3 linked regions of the Homo sapiens genome follow. The protein of the gene in region 2 purifies or fractionates together with the protein of the main gene of each other region. This does not show direct contact. Each region holds a gene or a part of one and is shown on either strand. Other genes may lie near its edges. The genes, in order: RSPRY1, NODAL and TXNDC5.

Evidence for each region.
Region 1: the proteins of NODAL (region 2) and RSPRY1 purify together in Homo sapiens (affinity purification with mass spectrometry; one large-scale study listed by BioGRID and IntAct). This does not show direct contact.
Region 3: the proteins of NODAL (region 2) and TXNDC5 purify together in Homo sapiens (affinity purification with mass spectrometry; one large-scale study listed by BioGRID and IntAct). This does not show direct contact.

Annotation. Positions count from the first base shown.
Region 1 is NC_000016.10:57,213,829-57,217,328, forward strand, and holds part of RSPRY1 (RING finger and SPRY domain-containing protein 1 isoform 1 precursor), read left to right. Parts: intron 1-59; coding exon 60-118; intron 119-2,278; coding exon 2,279-2,345; intron 2,346-3,075; coding exon 3,076-3,207; intron 3,208-3,500.
Region 2 is NC_000010.11:70,431,547-70,435,279, reverse strand, and holds the end of NODAL (nodal homolog isoform 1 preproprotein), read left to right. Parts: intron 1-2,191; coding exon 2,192-2,344; 3' UTR 2,345-3,344; downstream 3,345-3,733. UniProt on the Homo sapiens protein: Essential for mesoderm formation and axial patterning during embryonic development.
Region 3 is NC_000006.12:7,883,787-7,886,905, forward strand, and holds part of TXNDC5 (thioredoxin domain-containing protein 5 isoform 1 precursor), read right to left. Parts: intron 2,258-3,119; coding exon 2,175-2,257; intron 703-2,174; coding exon 573-702; intron 1-572. UniProt on the Homo sapiens protein: Protein disulfide isomerase of the endoplasmic reticulum lumen involved in the formation of disulfide bonds in proteins. Can reduce insulin disulfide bonds.

The sequences.
Region 1 (3,500 bases), on a different chromosome or scaffold from region 2:
CAGTGATTTAAAATAATCTGGCATTTTAATTATATCAAGTGTTTGTTGTATTTGTCTAGGTCCTGCAAGTATAGGTTTACTTAGCCCAGGAATACTGGAATACTTGCTACAGTGTCTGGTAAGTGAGACATCAAAACTATTTATTCTTAGTCATCTAGAAGTGGGCATCATCTAGAACTGTGCATTTTCTCAAATTGCTGGCATAGCCACTGGCACAGAGAATGGAATCAATTGTAAATTTTATTTGCAGGTGTTTCCCGAGTGCTTATTTATTCCCTCCTATGTTTAAAAAAGAGAGTGGGATTGGAATTTATCCCAACCAGCAAAAACAGCTGAGTTAGTCTGGTTTTAAATTTAGTCATAAGATAGCTGCTATGATTGGCTCTTTTGCATGTTCCTTGAGTTTGCCAAATGGTAATAGGGACCTCCACAGTAGAAACAATTACATGGCGTTCCAAGCCAGGAGGCCATCAAGTCAGATTCCCAGTATATATAAATCTCTACTCCTCCCTGCCCTCCCCCTCACTGCTACTCTTAAAACTGTTGTCACTGGAATATTTAATATATTGTCTATGAAGCTTCTGGTTTGCTGAGGCTGTGCCCTCAGATCTCTCATAGTTCTGGCCTGTGGTCTTGAATGGTCTGTATTTTTAAAAGTTATTTTTGTAGGCCTAGTGAGCATTGGCCCTTTTCAAAACTCTGGTCTGAAAACCCTTATTTGTCAATACCCACTGATACGTGCTTAAAACACTTACCTTACTCTCAATGAGCACTCTGGGGATACAACATGGCAGTCCTATGATTTCAAGAGGTTTATTGGTTAGTTGAGGAAACAAAACTACTCAGACAAGGTAATTAGCCTCCATTTTATCACAGGATGTGATCATGGGAGAAAGTACTTCATCAAGACTAAATGAGGGCCGGGCACGGTGGCTCATGCCTATAAGCCCGGCATTTTGGGAGGCTGAGGTGGGCTGGTCACCTGAGGTCAGGAGTTCAAGACCAGCCTGGCCAACATGGCGAAACCTGGTCCCTACTAAAAATACAAAAATTAGCTGGGCATGGTGGCATGTGTGTGTAGTCCCAGCTACTCAGGAGGCTGAGGCAGGAATTCACTTGAACCCAGAAGGCAGAGATTACAGTTAGCTGAGATCTCACCACTGCCCTCCAGCCTGGGCGACAGAGCGAGACTCCATCTCAAAAAAAAAAAAAGACTAAATGAGAAGGTGGGTGGTATGGGTAATGAGAGCCGGGGTGTCATGAAAGTCAGACTTCCTGATGAAGGTGGACCCTCAGCTGGGTCATGCTATAGATGAGGATTTTATTGTGCCCAGAGGAGGGAAAAAATTGGTTTCTTAGCTAAGGGAACATCACAGGCAGAAGTCCAGAGACAGAGAATTGTCTGATGAGAGAAGACAGTGTTCAGAGATAGGACACAGACTGAGTAGCCAGCTAGAAAGGGTTTAGGGCCTGAAAAGCCAGGCAGAGGGATTTAGATGGATATGAGAAGAAATAGAATGCTGAATAGGCTTTCCAGCAGCAGGGATGGTGGTTATGTGAGGTTTCCAGAACTTAGGAGGTACCAGGGAAGTCAGTGGGAATCATCTGATGTTCTGGAGCTCCTCTGGTGGCTCCCAATGTAGCAGTAGGGAAAGCACAGCTATGAGAAGGTGTCATGTTCAACAGATAGACCTTTCCTTAAAGGGGAACTCATGTGACATGAGCTTAAATGTAACTAAAAGAGTTCACTTGTTGCTTTCTCCTGTCTACCATCAGCATTTGTAGAATTCCTTTCAGGGAACAGCTTAAAAACTGAGCCATTAATTGTTAATTTAATTATTTATAATTTTGCAACTTGTTAGTGATAAGTGGTTCTTTTTAGGATTCTAAGTAAAATATCATTTTTAGTTTATAATTCTAGGTTTCTGTTTGGCTTGCATAAATGAATGTGAGAATGAATATTTTATTTAACAAAGCCCTAATGTAAGTTTTATTAAGTAAAATAACATAGTGTATTTAACAGGATACTTTTGAAATTTCCAAATCTATAAATTAACCTAGTGACTTTAAGAAAAAAATACAAGATTAAGAGAGCCTGTCCAGTTCATTACTAACATTATTAGCCAAATGGATAATTGAGAACTTGAATGAATGAAACTTTTCTGACCACTCGAAAAAACATCTAGCACATATTGGGCAAGGAAATGAAACTGATAACTTGCCACCTCTGCAGGGGAATGATTTTTTTTTTTTTTTTTTATCTTTTGTTGTTTTTCAGAAGTTACAGTCCCACCCCACAGTCATGCTTTTTGCACTTATCGCACTGGAAAAGTTTGCACAGACAAGTAGGTATAGTGACTTCTTGCACTAATGATCTTCTGTATTGGTTGTTAAAAATTTTATTTTTCTTAGTTACTGGATAAGCCTACACTTTGAACCCCATCAGATGGGCATACATTCTGTTTTCATCTGGATAGACACGTTAAAGCCAATGAAGTATAACAGGGACAAAGGCAAGGATTTTCTCACCTAAGAATCAAAACTTGGTAACCATGTTTACTCACTTTTTATAGCCAAAAATTTAGTGATGTGATTGCTAGTTTCTAGAAAAAAGTATGGTGGCTCTTGCCCATAATCCCAGCACTTTGGGAAGCTAAGGCCAGAGCATTGCTTCAGGCCAGGAATTCGAGACCAGGGTGGGCAGCATAGCAAGACTCAATCTCTACAAAAAATTTTAAAAAATCAGCCAGGCATGGTGGCATGCACCTATGTTCCTAGCTACTTGGGATGCTGAGGCGGGGGGATCACTTGAGCCCAGTAGTTCAAGGTTACAGTGATCCATAGTTGTGCCACTGCACTCCAGCCTAGGCAACAGAGTGAGACCCTGTGACTAAAAAAAAGGAAAACAAAATAGTCAAAGCTCTTTGGCTATGTTTTCCCTAGAAATTTTAATTGAAGTCTAATCTAGTCTCCAATTCTTTAATTGCCTCTTCCCCCTCCTTAGCAATACTAATTTGCTGAGCAAATCATTCTACCCTTTCATTGTTAATTCAAGGATTATGTCTTTCCAAACAGGTGAAAATAAATTGACTATTTCTGAATCCAGTATTAGTGACCGGCTTGTCACATTGGAGTCCTGGGCTAATGATCCTGATTATCTGAAACGTCAAGTTGGTTTCTGTGCCCAGTGGAGCTTAGACAATCTCTGTAAGTGGGAGTTGTCCTTTATTAAAATGTCCGTTTCCATTTCCAGACTCATTTCTTTCATAGGCTCACTGGTCTTCCTTTTGCAATGGTAAGTATGAGTCCTCATAAGGACCTCTACTGGCAGGTTGGATATATTCTAGCAGAAAAGTATCCTAGAGACCCTTTAGACAAGAATTACATGGTATGCTTCTAATTTCAGCATTTTCCTGTTCAAAAACCTTTACTGGCACCCAGTTTCCTGCTGCATCAAAGCCCTTAATTATATGGCACTGTCTAACCAGCTCTTTCCAACA
Region 2 (3,733 bases):
TGCCAGGCGTGAGGGGGAGGGGAGGCAGTAAGCTGGCCTTGGGGGACAGGGCTCTAGCTTTGCTATTAAATGACTATGTTCCTGTATTCACAGTTACTCAAGCACCTCCAATGTACCAGGATCCTGTGCTAGGTACCAGGCATGTAGAGATGACCGAGTGTAACATCCTTATAGAGCCTGTATGGGGTCATGCGTCACTGGGTAGCCTTGAACACATTGTTTCCCTGGGACTTTATCCTTGTCTTTCATAAAATTAGGGGGTGGGGGTAGACCAGAGGGTCTCAGCACTTCCCTAGCCCTGACATTCTAGGAAAGGAAGAATCTGGACTTTGGGGACAGGCAGGCCTGCATTTGACTCCTCATTAGCTGTGTGATACTGTTTAGGTTGCTTATTCTCTCAAGCTTCAGTTTTTCCACCTGTAAGATGAGGAGGGCAATGCCATATTTCAGAGGGATGCTGTAGGGTTAATGAGATGACATGCACATGGCATGTAAAGCAGTTGGTAGGTAACAGGCATGTTTGGCTGCATTATGGGGCCACGGTTGGAATCACACTGTTCCAGCCACAGTATTTTGGTTGAGAATTGACTACCCATTCTACAGAAGTAGACAAGGCCAGCCAGGTGCGGTGGCACATGCCTGAAATCCCAACACTTTGGGAGGCTGAGGTGGGCGGATCACCTGAGGTCAGGAGTTTGAGACCAGCCTGACCAACATGGTGACACCCCGTCTCTACTAAAAATACAAAAATCAGCCGGGTGTTGTGGCACATGCCTGTAATCCCAGCTACTCGGGAGGCTGAGGCAGGAGAATCACTTGAACCCGGGAGGCAGAGATTGCAGTGAGCCGAGATCATGCCATTGCACTCCAGCCTGGGCAACAGGAGCGAAACTCCATCTCAAAAACAAGAAAAAGTAGACAAAGCCAGAGGCTGCCACTTGGTGCCACTAGTCAGCCTAAGGTCTAGGAGGTGGTGGAGGAAGAACAGAGCTGGTGAGTTAGGAAAGAGAAGAAGATGGAGAGAACAGAAAATATAACCTAATATGGTGGATCTGATGTTATAGGTGGCCCTGCCCTGCTGTCCAAGGTCATATGGGACCAAAATGTTTTCATTTTACTCCATGAAGTCTGGAATGAGAATTTCTTGGACTTGCAATATATCCTCCATGCCAAGCCTCAGGCGGGATTCAGGGTCTCTGGGGAGCATGAGCACATGGGCTGAGGTCATGCAAGGGAGTCCCTGGGGGTACTAGAGCTTCCGAGGATCTGTCCTGAGCCTCACCCAGGCCTGCTGATTTTCATCGCCCACCTGGAGCACCACAAAGACCCAGACAGTCCCAACTGCCAACTCTGACACTCTGATCTAAAAAGACGTTACTAGACCACAGGGACAGGCCCTGGTTCCAAAACGCCAAGGGATTGTTCCTTTCCTCCTATTGACTCTCTCTGTCCTTCTCTGGCTGACAGCAAATCCCATAAGAATTTCCACATGACTAACTATTCTGCTTCATATTTCTAGAACTAAACCAGGAATTTCTTGGAATATTTTAAAAATTGGTATTCACAGCCGGGCACGGTGGCTCACTCATGTAATTCCAGCATTTTGGGAGGCTGAGGTGGGTGGATCGCTTGAGCCCAGGAGGTCAAGACCAGCCTGGGCAACATGCCGAAACCCTATTTCTACAAAAAATACAAAAATTAGCCAGGCATGGTGGCATGTACCTGTAGTCCCAGCTACTCAGGAGGCTGAGGTGGGAGGATCACCTGAGCCCAGGAGGTTGAGGATGCAGTGAGCTGTGATCACACCACTGCACTCCAGCCTGGGCAACAGAGCAAGACCATCTCAAAAAAGAAAAAAAAAATGGTATTCCCTTTAGACTAGAATAATAGGAGAACATAAAAATTAGCTACCACTTAAAAAAAAAAATAGCTACTACTCTACCCAGATACATGTAATTTTTTGAATCTGTTTAAAGGCTGTTTTCACAAAACAAGCACAGAGCTAAAGGTAGTTTAGACATTAGAGTTCATGATATATTGGCAAGCTAATTCCTTTATGAAAATAATTTTCTGCTATTTTTGCACTCAGGAACTGACTTTAACTCCGTAACTTTTTTACTCTTTACCCAGAAATACTATTCTGACCTGCCCATCAGGATGTGAATTGACACACCCTTCCTTTCCTTTACAGAGTCTGCTGAAACGTTACCAGCCCCACCGAGTCCCTTCCACTTGTTGTGCCCCAGTGAAGACCAAGCCGCTGAGCATGCTGTATGTGGATAATGGCAGAGTGCTCCTAGATCACCATAAAGACATGATCGTGGAAGAATGTGGGTGCCTCTGATGACATCCTGGAGGGAGACTGGATTTGCCTGCACTCTGGAAGGCTGGGAAACTCCTGGAAGACATGATAACCATCTAATCCAGTAAGGAGAAACAGAGAGGGGCAAAGTTGCTCTGCCCACCAGAACTGAAGAGGAGGGGCTGCCCACTCTGTAAATGAAGGGCTCAGTGGAGTCTGGCCAAGCACAGAGGCTGCTGTCAGGAAGAGGGAGGAAGAAGCCTGTGCAGGGGGCTGGCTGGATGTTCTCTTTACTGAAAAGACAGTGGCAAGGAAAAGCACAAGTGCATGAGTTCTTTACTGGATTTTTTAAAAACCTGTGAACCCCCCGAAACTGTATGTGAAAGTTGAGACATATGTGCATGTATTTTGGAGGTGGGATGAAGTCACCTATAGCTTTCATGTATTCTCCAAAGTAGTCTGTGTGTGACCTGTCCCCCTCCCCAAAGATTAAGGATCACTGTATAGATTAAAAAGAGTCCGTCAATCTCATTGCCTCAGGCTGGGTTGGGGGAGCCCCACAGCTTTCTGGCTGGCCAGTGGCAATCTACTGGCCTTGTCCAGAGGCTCACTGGAGTGGTTCTCTGCTAATGAGCTGTACAACAATAAAGCCATTGTCTAGTTCTCCTGGGCCAGCTGGTGCCTGTGAAGGCAGAGGCAGGAACTCATCCAAGAGGACCGGCCATGTTGGGTTACAGAAGACATCCCTGCGTCAGTCTGCTTCGGCAGACACAGCCTGAGTTTGTTAAAGTTGGTGACAATCCACCTCAGTCTCTCAATGTGTGCTATTAATGAGGCCTCTGAGCTTCCTATCCAGCAGTGGTGAAGGCCTTGCCCTGGGTGGCAAGATACTTGCTCTATGGTCACAGCTCAGCCACTGGAAGCTGTGCGACCTCAGGTGAGCAATTCACTGTCCAGTCTCCACTTGTAAAAGGAACGCTGGTGAATCCTAATGCATTCATATTAAATGTCTGTTGTCAGGCTCAGAAGAGCCATGAGCTTTAAGCTGTAGACTGAATAGGAAGAGCTACCTTATCCCTACCTCCCTCTAAAGCTTATAAAGCTTGCTAAACCCAGTCCCTGCCACATGCCCTTAATCTAACCTTTATCGGCTCTTTTGTTACTCAGGGTTCTAAGACAGACTTAATTTCAGGTTCCACATGGGAAGCACAGCAAAAGGAGCCTGAGTGAGGCAGCTCTATCCCCAAAAACCCCTGACCACAGTTATCTTCCAGGTAAAAAGACCTCAAAGGCAGCAATTCTGGCTGGGTGCAGTGGCTCATGCCTGTAATCCCAGCACTTTGGGAGGCTGAGATGGGAAGATCACTTGAGTCCAGTAGTTCAAGACCAGCCTGGGCAACATAGTGAGAACCTGTCTCTGTTTAAATAAAA
Region 3 (3,119 bases), on a different chromosome or scaffold from region 2:
AAAGGGCTCCAAAAGTGTCTGAATAACAAAGAAGAAAAAAAATGACAAATCTTCCAGGCCATCAGACTGTGCTAACAGCTTGGAATGAAGGCAGTAGTTAACCCAAGCACAGGACCGACTTGCTGGCATGGCCCTTTCAGAAAGGAGGTTATGTTGAAATGATTCTTAGATTCAGCCACTGCATTTTATAATGCTGGCTTATGTGTGAAAAATGAGCGACTCGGGTATTTATGGCAAAGGCTACAGACCACTGGTCAATCATCAAGAGTCGCGGTGTGGGAAGCCCCACAGTCTATGGCGTGGGGTCTGTTACTTCACGGCCTTGTTACTCAGACAGCAAGGCCTGAAAACCTGCACTGAAACATGGATACTAACTACAAAGCGGGCGAAGAAGAATGCCTTCCCTTTGAGAGAGGATCTCTTTTGCTTCTCCAAACAAACAACTCAAAGGGACATAAAAACCACATTGTTGAGAAGATGAGAGCAGAGTGAGTTATCGTGGTTGAGGCACAGTTCCCTTGGGATCTGCCCCCATACTGAGAGCTCCCATAAGCATCCATCCAAGTACCCACCGAATACTTGCTGCAGATATTCCGTTCAGCAGTGCAGTCTACTTCGGCGATCTTGACCCCCGCCAGACCAGGGAATTCCTTTTTAGAGAGTTCCTCCCAAGTAGGAGCCAGAGTCTTACAATGACCACACCTAAGACGAGAAAAATGGCAGCTTCGTTGAAATCCTGGGTCGAGATCATTCACCTACACTCTGCTGCCAAGACAAGCTCTGTTTCTTCTGTATGGGACAGTCAACAATTGCCTAGAAATTTGTAAAATACCAAATTCTCCCACTGGGTGCACATTAACTCTTCCTCCTCCTATCCCAAATGAAGAACCCAAAAGTTGATCCAAGGTAGACTTTCAGATAATGTGACAGAAGCAAGCCAGTCTCAAAACAAGTTGAGATTCTGAGACCATTTCCATGCCATGGTGAACTGTGCTAACTGGTTTATGAAAGCACAGGAGCAGAGGAACAGGGAACAGGGCAGATGCCACACAATTTCTAAAAGGTCACTTGAATGCCAAAGACATTTTAGATTTGATTGCTTATGGTCTCACAATTTCAAAACCATTTTAAGGCCTCCTTGGTACTTCAGCGATGTGGGGTGAGCATCAAGGCCATGATTAAGTTTGGTTCAAACCCTCCCTTCTACCCGACTCTGTTCCCTTGTCTCTTCTGACCCCCTCCTGCCGTATGGATGGCTCCCCTTCAGCCAAAGGGGATCCTCCTTTTTGATACTTGATCTGTGGAGCTTTAGGTTTTTAAATGTTGCAAATGATTTGAAAGGCATTGCTATGGTTCGTTCAAGTCCTGTGCTTATTAACTTTTTACCCCTATGGTTAGTTTCTCAGGAACATGTGGAGTGTAACAAACAAGAAAAGTGACGCCTTTATCATGTTTAGATAAACAATCTACTGTTGTCCTAACACTCTGCTTTTCCAAATGGATTGTTTTATTTGTGAAGACAAAAAGTTACTCCCATTTTTCAGCTGAGGGAACTGGGGTTCAAAGGAATTAAAGGACATCCAAGTTTACTATACAGTCATTCACGGTAAGTCTTAGAACCAAGGTTGTCTGGATCTCACACTACCTGCAATCCATTTCTGCTCTGGTCTCCAAGACCACGTGGCATGCAGGTTCAGGAAACTGCGTAGCATACTGAATGGCTCTAACAGACTCTACTGGATTTCTCTACAAAAGAAATCCGAGTACTTAAAAGAACCGAGGAGCAAAGCTACATCATGACACTCATTGTTTAGCCAAAAAGAAAAGCCATCTATTTGGAAAAGTGCAGATACCACAAAACTGAATATGGCCATCATAATTTGCCTCCATTTTTATGTTTTCTCCAAAGTTGATATAACTTTAGCCTCATTCTCCATATATAATCAAAGTTGATATAACTGTAGCCTCATTCTCCATATATAATTAAGGCCATTGAAGTTTAAAATATTTGAATATAGGAGCATGATAACGGTTCCTTATTTCCTACAACATGACCTACATATAAATGTAACATGTGCCCAACATTGAGTCTGGAGGGGTGGCAGATGAGCTGAAAAACATGATGTGACTTAGTACACATGGACAAAGTAGTTTCTAATTAAACAGCCACTTACCATGGAGCATAAAACTTGATGAAGGTTATTCCTTCTGCAATGGTGTCATCGAAGTTATTTTCAGTGAGTGCCAACACAGTGCCCTTCAAGGGAGGAAAAAGCCACAGTTCAAGTACATCCCTTAAAGTTGAGCAGGGCCATGCTTTGGGATTGCAGATACACGAATCAGTAATTTTTTAAAAATGCAGTTACGTAGGCTCCAAGGTCACACAGAAATACCTACACAATCTGCATTTCATAGGCTACACACAAAGGGAGGCTGGCAGCCTCTGAAGGGCAGAGAGATCAATGCAAGTCCCTGGGTCCCAAGCCTGGGAGATGTGGTGAGGAGGTGGCTGGACACTGTACAGGGGATGAAGGTGGGGAGGGGGACTGTCTTTTGGGGATGAGGCAGGTTGAAAACTCTCCAGGGCGCTGTGGTGTGGACCAGGCAGCCCTGGGTGTCTGACACTTGAGTCTGCACCTCTAAGCCTGGAGTCTCCAGGATACCCACTGAAGTCTCATCCTCAGCCGCTTTTCTCACTGGCCACCCTATTCTCCTAGCACCCTTTGTGACATCCTCTCTATGCAACAGAAAGAACCTAGTTACAATAGCAAAGGCAATGATACCTGTTTTACATTGAACATAAAAATGGAAAGCAGCCTGTTCTAAGTCAATGTGAAAAACGCTGATGGAAGCTCTGGCTGGAGAATTTAAGGGAAAGGTGCTACATGGTAGTCTGCTTTAAAGCCATTCTCCCTTGACAGTTCTTTACAGAATGACGTCTATGTGTTTCTCCAAAAATGGATCTGCGATTCTCTCCTGAGAGCAGGAATGGGATGATTTATCACGTGGCTAAGTGTACCAGGGCTGCTCCATTTGAGTCTGGCATCGAGTAACATGTCAGTGACGGAGGCCAAGGGGGCCACTGTGGAACACTACCATCTTTATGTCCAGAAACATGA